Regions from separate parts of the Homo sapiens genome. Here region 1 is linked to region 2. The links come from fine-mapping of genetic effects on gene expression. A gene starts in region 2. The other region holds a variant in brackets. All regions are shown on one strand. Distances are from middle to middle.

What was found. PIP is the estimated chance that this variant, and not a neighbour inherited with it, causes the effect.
Region 1: its variant is the best candidate, but not a certain one, in a credible set for the expression of EGFLAM in skeletal muscle (GTEx, PIP 0.87).

The regions. Positions count from the first base shown.
Region 1 is chr5:38,453,017-38,458,394 of GRCh38, forward strand. EGFLAM (EGF like, fibronectin type III and laminin G domains) reads left to right here. Exons shown (of 22, transcript NM_152403.4): 20 at 5,295-5,378. All of the region lies in intron 1 of EGFLAM-AS5 (EGFLAM antisense RNA 5), which reads right to left. Among named protein-coding and RNA genes, the nearest start is that of EGFLAM-AS5, 13 kb to the right of the region's middle. The variant A/G (reference allele first, on the strand shown) is at 3,342.
Region 2 is chr5:38,255,674-38,261,051 of GRCh38, forward strand. EGFLAM (EGF like, fibronectin type III and laminin G domains) reads left to right here and starts at 2,886. Exons shown (of 22, transcript NM_152403.4): 1 at 2,886-3,178. The coding sequence starts at 3,082. LOC124900966 (a long non-coding RNA gene) reads right to left here and starts at 2,993. Exons shown (of 2, transcript XR_007058739.1): 1 at 2,921-2,993; 2 at 1,424-1,958. RefSeq lists an enhancer at 1,516-2,017.

The DNA of each region.
Region 1 (5,378 bases), 200 kb after region 2:
CGCTCATCTAGACAGTGGCTTTCCAAGTGTGGTCCCCAGACCAGCAGCCCCAGCATCACCTGGGAACTTGTTAGAAATCCACGTTCTCAGGCCCCAACCTGATCTACTGAACCAGAAACACTCTAGGGGTGGGGTCCAGCAATCCGTGTGGTAACCGCTTCCCCAGACGATTCTGATACCCTCAAAGCTTTGAGTTCCATGGGGGAACTCATTTCTTGGACTTCTACTTCTTAATTCACCCTCTGATGACTAGCTCAAGTGTTTGCTAAATGATATGAAAGTAATTGAATTGAAATAGACAAAGCAGGGATCACTAAACAGTGGAGAAGCTGAAGACTTAATTCTGGGGCTTCTGTTGGTCCTGTGCTAAGATTACTGACAGCCCAAGTAGGATAACAGAAATCTTTCTGTTTGAATAAAAGGCATTTTGAGAGGAAATGTCACTTGTCCAATGTTATGCTATTCCCTAAATAGCAGAGCATGCTAAGTGACTCCATCTTATGATTGTTGGGGACTTTGGAGACTCATATGTAGTTGAGGCTGGATGCTGGCAGGTGAGAGGCAGCTTCTCACCATCTCTGCCTTCCTGTCCTCCGTAGCCTCCCACCCATTGCTAGCCCAGAGGTTGAACACGGAGCTCTTCACACCCTATTTCAGGCTGGCTGCCTTGAAGCCATTTTCTTATGGTTTTCCTGTGGTTAACCTCATCAAGGCCTCAAGTACTTGATTGTGCCCAGAAAAGAGAACCGAAACAGAAGCTCAGCTGTGGGTGGGATGGTCCAACTTCCCCCTAAACTGCCAGCTGAATCTATTCACCACCCATTCTACTCCAGTAGGGAAACAGCTCCCACCAGCTCCCATGCCCAGCCCTGGAGAGCCCCCTCCCCTCTCCCACCTGCTTAGGATCCTTCAAAGAGCTCTGCTTTATCCTGAACATACTTCTTGTTACCATTTCTTTCTCAGGATTCTGAAAATTGGCCCTCTGTTTTTCTTCCAATCCTGGAGTTCTGATTGTGATCTGTGTAAGACACACTGCTGAACCCAGGCCGAGGTCGACTTCTGTGCCTGCTCTGGTCCTGGAGCCGCCCCATTGCTGCCACTCTGTTCTTCCTCCATCTGGGCTGTTATCCCACCACATCAATGTCCCCGATGCTGATGTAGGGAAGCGTACCGGCGGGCTGGGGACAGAGAGGAATTCCAGTGTAGGCCAGTGGTTTGAAGATGTCAGCGGTGTGGTGGGCACCGGGTCTGATTAGAAACAAGCACCCGGGTGTTTCCGGGACCCATGCCCTGAGAAACAGGGTCTGAAGTGGCTTTGGAATCACACATGCCTGATCCCCCACGTGGGCTCATGAGTTACCTAAATCTCAGCCTCTGTCCCCTCCTTGCAAAACGACAGGGTTCGCTGTAAAGATTAAATGAATGAATTCATGTAAGGGGTTCAGTGTGGGGTCAGGTGTAGCTAATTAATGATAATGATAAGAAAAATTATGATCCTTGCTCAAGCATTTTCTGAGTCTTAGAAGCCTTTACCTCAGAGAGAGAACACGTAGTTATTATTAAAATGTAGTTCTTATTTTTATTATTGTTATTGTTATTTTTAATAAGTCACGGGCCCTGCGCCCAAGGGGCACAGATCTGTGCAGTCTGGAGAGTGAATTGTTCTACAGAGCAGACAAATCGTTCTTGAGGTTTCAGTGTTTGATCCAGGCTCAAAGCAGATGGAAGAGGAACCCTAAGATAATAAAATATAGTCCCAACTTTCATGACTTTCTTTACCTAAAAGCTGGTTCTTTGGCTAATTTAGTGCTCAAAGGCTTTCTGCCAGAGAATAGGGAAAAACAATGGGATTCTAAAAATGTATATATGTATATATATTTATAGTTTTGGTGCAAGATTTAGCAGAAAAAATAAGGAAATCAAAGTGCTCAGTGAAAATGAGTGTGTTTTTCTGTTTTCTGTTTTGTTTTTGTTTTGTTTCATTTTGTTTTGTGATTGTATGTGGGGCATAAAACCTACCACCGGTGGGGTTTGTGAACATTGCTTGACTGTTCACAGTGAACACTGCCCGCTTAGTTTCACCTCATCACATCTTCATGCAACGAAGAGGGGGAAGAGACTTGACATTAGCAAAGTGCCTTGTGCTACAATTTAAAGGGGGCATGATTAAAAGTGCCACCACAGGAAAGCAGGAAGGTGGCCGAGTGGTTTCCAAAAGGCCTCACCTGAAGGTATTTCCGGGTGGCCCACCTTGGTGCTCTGGCTCACAGCCTCTAGTGCACACCAAGCTGAGTGGCTCAGAATAACCCATCATGGCAACCAGGTTCCCAAGACGTGGGTAGAGAAGTTAGACATACATTCTTATATCTGTTTGTTTCTACATTTTTATACTGAGGCATACCTTCCATGCCATGCACACCTGTTCAGTGTAGAGCTTGATACATTTAGAATATGTAAACACTGAATCACTGTCACCCAGAACAAGATATAGAACATGTCCACCACCCAAAAATGCTCCCTCATTCTTCTCCCAGTGAAGGTAACCACTCTTCTTGGTCATTTATGATTATATACACGAGGGAGCTTTTCCAGGGTGAGTATCAGCACGTCAGAGGAAGCGGGAGGTTCTTTGGAGGGTCTGAAATCAGATGGAATTGAAGGGTTGGGGAATCGGGCCATGGAGAAGCCAACTGAGTTGCCCCCTCCCACAGTGATGGCTGGATTCCTGTCTGCCAGGTTCACGGTTGACTCCCTAGAGCACATTCTAGCTCTTGGCCTGAACAGGAGAGTTGTCGGGCTGCAGAACAGAAGGAAGGGCACCCTTTGTCTAGATGGGCTCTTAGACAACTGAAAAGGTTTTCATTCACTGCACCACAATCATGTTCCAATCCAGCCTCCCTTCACGTACACAGCCAGATCACCTTGATTCTGAGATCTGGGTGTTCCGGACTGCTTTGGTTATATATTGACAGCTTGTTGGCTTACTTTCACACATGGCTAGTCTTCAGAAGAGGTGTGACATATTCAAGCCTTGGTGGCAACTTTCTCCTTCCTACCAGTCCCTTGGGGTGCATTGTCAACCCCGTATCCAAGCTGCACTAAGTGCTGCCTCTGTTGGGAGTGGTGGGATTTTTCATTTGGCTCCTACGATGTGCAGTGCTTCCTACATATGTCATGTTACTTAGCATTCCCTAGGATTCTTCAGGGAAGGGATTATTATCCCCGTTTGACAGATGAGAATATGAAGCAAGTTGCCCAAGGTCACAGAGCTGTTAACTAGCGAGTCTGGGGATCAAGGCAGGTCCGTTGAATCTGAGTGTCCGTGCTCTTTCTATCACCCC[A/G]CGCTGCCTCTCAGAACGGCCATAGATAGTAATTCAGCTAAGTTTCTGCCCACCAGCAACTCGCCCTACTTCCTATTCATTCAAGAAGTATTTAGCCACCAAATCATGAAATCTCAAAATTCCGCCACCAGGCTGCTTTATACAAGGAGGTACTTGATGTGGGAAAACTCATTAGAAAACAGTGGACTTTTCAGGGTCAGAGTGGCAGCTTTGTCCCAGGGTTTGTCAAGTCACCCCAAGTCCTATTCTTGGTTAAATGTCAATGGGCTGTGTGAGTTCTTCGAGCCTCCATTATTAAAGGAATGATCTATGGTGCTTTCTCTGGAGAAAGCCAAGCACTTTCTATTCTTGCTGTTTTCTCAGAATGAGTACATGCCAGTGCTTGTTAACTCATCCAGATTTTCTCTCGACATCCCTCTCTCTTGGGCAATGAGGTGAAGGAGAGATATGTCCTCTTACAAAATGAGGAGGGAGTCATCCCAGGTGGAACATACTTCCCTTCAAAAGCTTGATGGCCTAGGCTTTATTGTATTATCCAGGGAAAGTCTGGGCAGTTGGCCCAGTGCCCGGGCTAGAGTAGTCACTCACTAAATATTTGTCGAATTAAATTTAATTAGAATAATTGAATGAACACTGGATTAAGGGGGATATTTCTCTCTGGTAACAACATGTTCATGTTTTCTGAAACCCTTATGGTATCGGGGTATCTGGGAACTGAAATAGAAAATAGGAAGCCACTAGAGAAACCTGATAGCAGAGTTAAATGGATAAGGGCAGAGGATACACCAAGTTCAAGTTCTACATTAGGTTTGTGATTTTAGGCAAATTCCCTTAATCTCTCTGGGGCTCACCCTACTCTGCAATGTTCATTTTTTTTTAAAAAGTGAAAACAGATGCATTCATTTCTTAGGGCTCTGATAATACATGACCACAAATTAGGTGGCTTAAAACAATAGAAGTGGGCTCTCTCACAGTTCTGAAGGCTAGAAATCCACCATGCAGTGCAAGGGTTGGCTTCTTCTGGAGGGTCTCAGGGAGAATCGGCTCCATGCCTGTCCCCCAGGTTCTGGTGGTGGCTGGCAGCCCTTGGCATTCCTTGGCTTGGAGATGCCCCATTCCAGTCCCTGCCTCCAGTTTCCCATGGCTTTCCCTGTCTCTGTGTGTCTCTGGCTCCATGTCCAAATCTCTTCTCATAAAGATACCAGTTATATTGGATCCATGGCTGCCCTAATCCAGTATGACTTCATTTTAACTAATGAATCTGCAAAGACCCTATTTTCAAATAAGTAACATTCTGAGGCTCTGGGTAGACATGAATTTGGCGGGTGGAGGGAGGGGGCAGACCATCATCGTAACATAGTATAAAACATTACACATGATAAAGCCCTTCTTGTTATTCCTGATACTTTAGTACTGATGTTGCCTTACATGAGGGCATTAAAAAACAATCTTGATAACATTATGCTAAGTGAAGTAAGCCAGTCACAGTCACAAAAAAGACAAATACTCTATGATGCCACTCATATGAGGTATGTAGAAGAATCAAATCCACAGAGTCAGAAGGTAGAAGGCTGGTTGTCAGGGGCTGGGGGGAGGGAAGAATGAGGGGTTATTATTTAATGCAATGCTTTTGTTTTGTAAGATGAGTTTTGGAAATTGCCAGCCCAACAATATGAATATGTACTTAATGCTGCGGCACTGTATGCTTAAAAATGGTTACGATGGCCATGGTTATGTTACATATATTTTACCATAATTTAAAAGTTTAATAATTTTTAATTTCATGAACCAGCCTAGAAACCCAACAACTTTTATAACACTCTTGTTTTTTGTTAAGGAAACTGCACTCTGAGTTGCAAAGAACTTTTGCCCTGAGAATCGTCTGTGAACCGTGTCTGCTTATGCCTCAGTGTTTTATTCTGTTCTCTGTCTTCTTCTTCTCCAATGCCTTAGCTATAACCTGGGCAGTGGTGTGGCATCCATCATGGTGAATGGCTCCTTCAACGATGGTCGGTGGCACCGAGTTAAGGCCGTTAG
Region 2 (5,378 bases):
TCAAAGCCTCTTGGCCCCTCTTTAGTTCCCCTCCTCTCAGAAAGCAGGAAGAGAGTGAAAGGCAAGTGTTCTATTTGTCTTTAGTCAGATTTACAAATGCCATAGTTGGTTTTCAAACTGGAAGGAGAGGGAATCTTCCAGTTCCCTTGGAGGATGCGATTTGAACTGCAAAGGAAGGGAATAAGTTTAATGTAACATGTGCTCTAGATTTGAAGCAGATTTTGTGAAATAAGGTCTTATCTCAATGGCCTGATGATCCAGAGTGTTTGCAGGCCCTCAGAGGTAAAAATACAACAGTATAATCTAATGTTGTTTTTCCCCAAGGAAAAAACAAGAGGGGTCTCTGAAGAAACCAAGCCTATTTCCCAAATCGCCTATGGTCATCTGCAAAAAAATGGAAGGGAGGCCCAGGGCCAGGGATGCCGAGGTGGTGTGGGCACATGAGGAGGACATTGGCAAGAAGGCTGCCCAGGCTTGCGAAATTTGCAGTGGACAATTTGCACAGGGTCTGTTAAAAGGCACATGCAGAGTAAAGGTAGCTTAGATTAGATGATGCTGTTTTATCAGCTATTAAAGAGAAAGCAAAACCTGGAATTTACTGATTGTTTCGTCCAGCCCATTCATTTTTACCAAGGCACACTATACGCAGAGCCTAGGATTAAACACCCACATCTCCCGATCCTCTCAGTCCACTGCTGTGTTTACTTTCCACATTGTTCTCTCAAAAGCCTGAAAGCTGGAATCAGACCCCTTGGATTCAAGCGCTGCATGGGAGCTGCATGACCTTGGGCAAGTTTCTTAACCTTCCCATGCTTCAGGTTCCTCACCTGTAAAAGGCGAGAATAGTAATGACAGTATCTTCCTGGTATGGTTGTTATTGGGATTAAAATGCACTTCAAAGAAGGTCTGGTACATAGGAGACCTTAAATAAATGGTAGCCATAATATCAACGATTATTATTACTTCCAGTTTCAGCATCACAGAGAATCATTTTTAAGTAGGAAAGCCTGCATGGGAGGCATCTGCATTGCAACACTCGCTTGGTTCTGGGTGCCACATTAAGTCCGAGATAAGAAATCACTTTCGCATAAAGAAAGGCCTCTAACAACTTCTCAGCTGGCGCTGGAGGAGCTCTCTCACACAGGTGGAGTTCAAAGGGAGGTGGCACGACCCGACACCAATGCTGAAAGCAGACTCCTGCGTGGAGTGGAGGCATGGCCTAGATGACCTTTAAAATGCTAAAAAGTCTATGATTTTGAGACCTTTGAGACTAGCAGCCTTGGGGGCAGTCACTTTGCTTAGCTTAGTGGCCGGCTTTATGGTCACCTTGGACGTGAAGAGCATAGTTCTGTCTGAACTTTGCTCCAGTTCTATGTAAGAGGACAAGCTCTGGTGTCACAGCTAAAACTTCCAAATACTCAAGTTGGAGGGGACTTTGAATTTATTTGTGAACAGACAATTGCACACTTGAAAATGCCAACACATAAGGGAACACACTCAGCTTTGCTAACTAACAAGATTGAGCTCATTACAAACTCTCCAGCCAGGGGATATTTCATTCTTAAAAGAGGAGTAGAAATCCTGTGTGTGTGTGTTTGGGGGGCTGGGGAGGGGAGAAGAATATATCAGTCAACATTGTTTCCTCCCGCGCTCCCAAACATAGGCTAACTGTGAAGAGCCAGGACGCCCACCGAGTCCTGGCAGCGTTGCAAGGTGGGGAGGGGGCGGGCGCGGTCCTGTCGCTAGTGACTGCAGATTTCCTCTGCGGGGCACTTCCTACGGCCTTTGATCTTTCCCCAGGAACTGCCGAGGGCCGCGTTTGCCTCTAAGTTTATTCCCTCTTGGTTTATTTATTGTATCTGCTTTCTCTTCTCGCTGGTTTGGAGGTCAGAACGCCAGTATGCAACGGGACTTGTGTCCCAGGCAGGGTCTCCCCTCTCCAGGCACTACCGCGAAATCTGGCAAAAGGTACATTTTACTGAGTCCTAGGGCAGCAAATTCAGCGGCGGAGAAAGAGTCTTTCTCCATTCAGGAGACAACCCAGGAAGCCCGATCCCGGGATCAGAGGCCAGGACCCCGCCCCGGCCCCCTGCCCCAGGCCCAGCTGGGCGCCGCCCAGGGGCTTTTCTCGGTCCGCCTGGGGGCTCGAGCTCGCGTCCCTCCCTAAGACGCCAGGCTTAACTTGGAGTTTCATCTCCTCCCCAGGAGGGTCTCAAGTTGCCTTCCTCTGCCGGGAAGGGCCCCCACTCCCCCGCTCCAGGCCCTAATCTCCACCCGGCGTCCCAGTCTGAGCGGCCTGGCCTCAGCTCTCCATCTGCGAGCCTTAAATCCCATTTATCTTCTTAGCGCCTCAGACCCGGACGGTCCCGCCTCTCTTCCTCTCACCCCCACCCCACTTGCAAATCACAGACCCCCGTCTACCCCTCGCATCCCCCAAGTGCGCTGGACCAACTACAGCAACCTTTGAGGTGTTAGAAAAAGTCGCCTAGAGGGGCGCGGCAGGAGGAGGGCCCAGGTGGGGTGGAGGGGGGGCGCCCCAAGATTTCAGGGTGAGGACCGCGGAGGGTCCTGGACCCGCAGTCGCCTAACTCCTGCCCTGCGTCTCCAGTGCTTGAAGTCGGTCCCTCCCAGGTCCCCAATCTAGGTCACCAGCGGGGAAGGGCTGCGCTGGGGGTCGCTAGAGAGGGTGAGGGGCGGGCTGTCTGCTTCCGAGGTGGGCGAGGAGTGAAGGTTTCAGGGCCTGTCCCTCTCACTTCCACTCGATTGTAATTTCATCCCCGGGCCGGTCGAGCCTCCCTCCCTCCCGCGGCCAGCCCTTCCCTCCCAGTCGGCCTCCTTCGTCGCCCCCGCCCCCGCGAAAAGCCCTGCAGCTTGCAGCCGGCTTCACTCGCGCACGCCGACCTCCCGGCTGCAGTCCTACCTCTTGGAACTACCCGTGTTTCCGGGCCCAGCCCTCGCAGCCCCCCACCTCCTCGCCCCGGCCCGGGGATCCGTTGGGGCCGCGTCCCCCACGCGCCCCCGGAGACGCCCTTTCCGTGTGCGCCCGGGACTTGGTGAAACTTTGCAGGCGCCGGCTGCGAAATGGATTTAATCCGAGGCGTCTTGCTCCGGCTCCTGCTCCTGGCTTCCAGCCTCGGACCCGGCGCGGTGTCGCTCCGAGCGGCCATCCGAAAACCAGGTAATGCGCTCCTCCGCCCAGAGCCACCACGCCCCGAGCGCCCCTGCTGGGCTCCGGGGCGAGGACACAGAGCGGGCAGCGCACCGCCTCCCTCTCCCCGACCAACGTCTGCTTAACTCGCTTCAGCTCTGCCAGGAGCTGAGAAAAGACGCAAACCTCGCCCTCCCCCGAGCCCGGGCGGCGCTAGGGATATTTATTTATTAAAAGAATGATCAATTTTCCAGACATAGTAGATAGAGGTGGTGGTCCCCGTGTTTGACCGCAGAGAGCTGACAGTTGGGACAGCGATCGTGCTGTCTCAATTACAGAGGATGGCAACCATGCAGAGGAGTCAAACCAGCCCCTCCTGCGTCTCCAAACATTTTACTCAATTCATATTGTCCAGAGCCCAGCCATTTCCTGTTAAGTGTCTGAAGGGTTGCCTGGAGCCCCCTCTGCCCATCTCGGGTCCTGCCCACGCGTTGTGCAGGGATGTGGACTCTGCTCTTAGCATCCTCTTCCACTCTGGGGCCATTTGTTCAGAAGGAAGCACCCAGTGGGTTAATTTTACCGTGTTTTGAACTCCTGTCTTTGCTTTGGCATTTAAACAAAGAAATGTACGTTGTAACCTGTTATAAGGGACTGGGAATTGGGGGAGAACTTGAAACCATAATAACGTGTGTTTCCTCTAGCTGCATATAGGTAAAAAGTCTTCGTTTATTTTGGTCTACTTTGATTTGGCCTATGCTGTGAGATTATTCAAAGTAGAACATTCTGAACAATGAAGTTCTAAACATTGTTTCCCAAATAACGATTTTTATTACTTTTTGCTGGGACCATATTTAGAATTCTGAAAAATCTGTTTTGTCTTAACTTACTTTGTAAGGGAGGTTGTCTTATGGGATTAATTATATCTTATGAACAATGGAAAACAATATTACTTTTATTTGAATGCAGTCTGCAAAACCTCACAGAAAGTGCAGTTTGTCTTCACAAACGTTTCTGTAAGAAAGAGGCAAAGCTAGGAAAATTTATCAGAGGGCAGAGAAAATCGTCTTAGCGGGATCCCATGTGAATGCTTAAATATTTTCGCATTGAAACTCTCTATCTGGAAATATGACTTGTTGCATTTCGGCTCTGGAAGCGTCCTCAGTCTTTGCACTGTGTCTCTTATTACCAGCACTTGTTACCTGCCTTGAAATCTAAGGTCATTATCATAATCTACACCATATTTAAATTATGAGCCACTCCATTTATGAGCTCTTCAATTCATTTTGGAGATAATAGCTTCAGTCCAAGGTAATATCACATTAAATTGTTTCTCTTCCTGCACGCACACATACATATACCTTCAAGGATTTCAGTGAAGGGCTTCTTTCTAACTTTCCTCCTTAAGATAACCACATCACGATCAATTGCATTTTGCAGATTTATTCACATGAAATCATCTATTAATTGTCACAATTTTTAAACAAAGCATAGTTATATCTATAGTTTTAAAGCATGAACAGTGTATGCAATGCTTTTTAAAGGATATATTTTAATCCATTTAAGGGGAATTTTTAAAAAGCATTTTATAAAAACCTGTTGTATAAAACTGCTCATGTGGGTCATCATATTTTCCTTCTTATTTTTTGGAGTTCTTCTCCTAAAAAGATTTTCTACCTGGTTCATTCAGGGTCTCATTCTGATATTCATGCCAGGAATATGCCATGCTGGCCTCTTTGGTTTTATTTGAAGCATAGATAGGGTTTTGATAGTGGAAACACCACCTCTTAAATACTTTGGCATATTAATTACATCAAATTTGAGATAGAAGTGTTTAGACTAGGTTCAACCTAGAAGAGTTTTATTTTTATTACTTTATAATTTTATCCAGACACTAGCTTTCAGGTTGGAAAGCTTCTCAGATTAAAATGACAGCTACTTCATAACTTCAGGGGAAATTTCCCTCCTGGGCTCATTTACATCCCTTGGAAAGACTAGTTTTTGATCCGGAAAATTGGTCCAGATTAAAAAACTGAATGTGCCCTGCTTGGCTCTGATGTGAGCAGCAACTAGCTAATTTATAATCTTCCCCAGACACTAGCAAATCCTGCTAGTATCCATATGGGAGTTTCTTTGTACCTTGTTTCCTCAACAGAAATTGGTACATAGACAGTACTTTGAAGGTATCGTGGCCACGGTGCAGGCATACTGGAGCGGTTCTGTCTTATTTGGA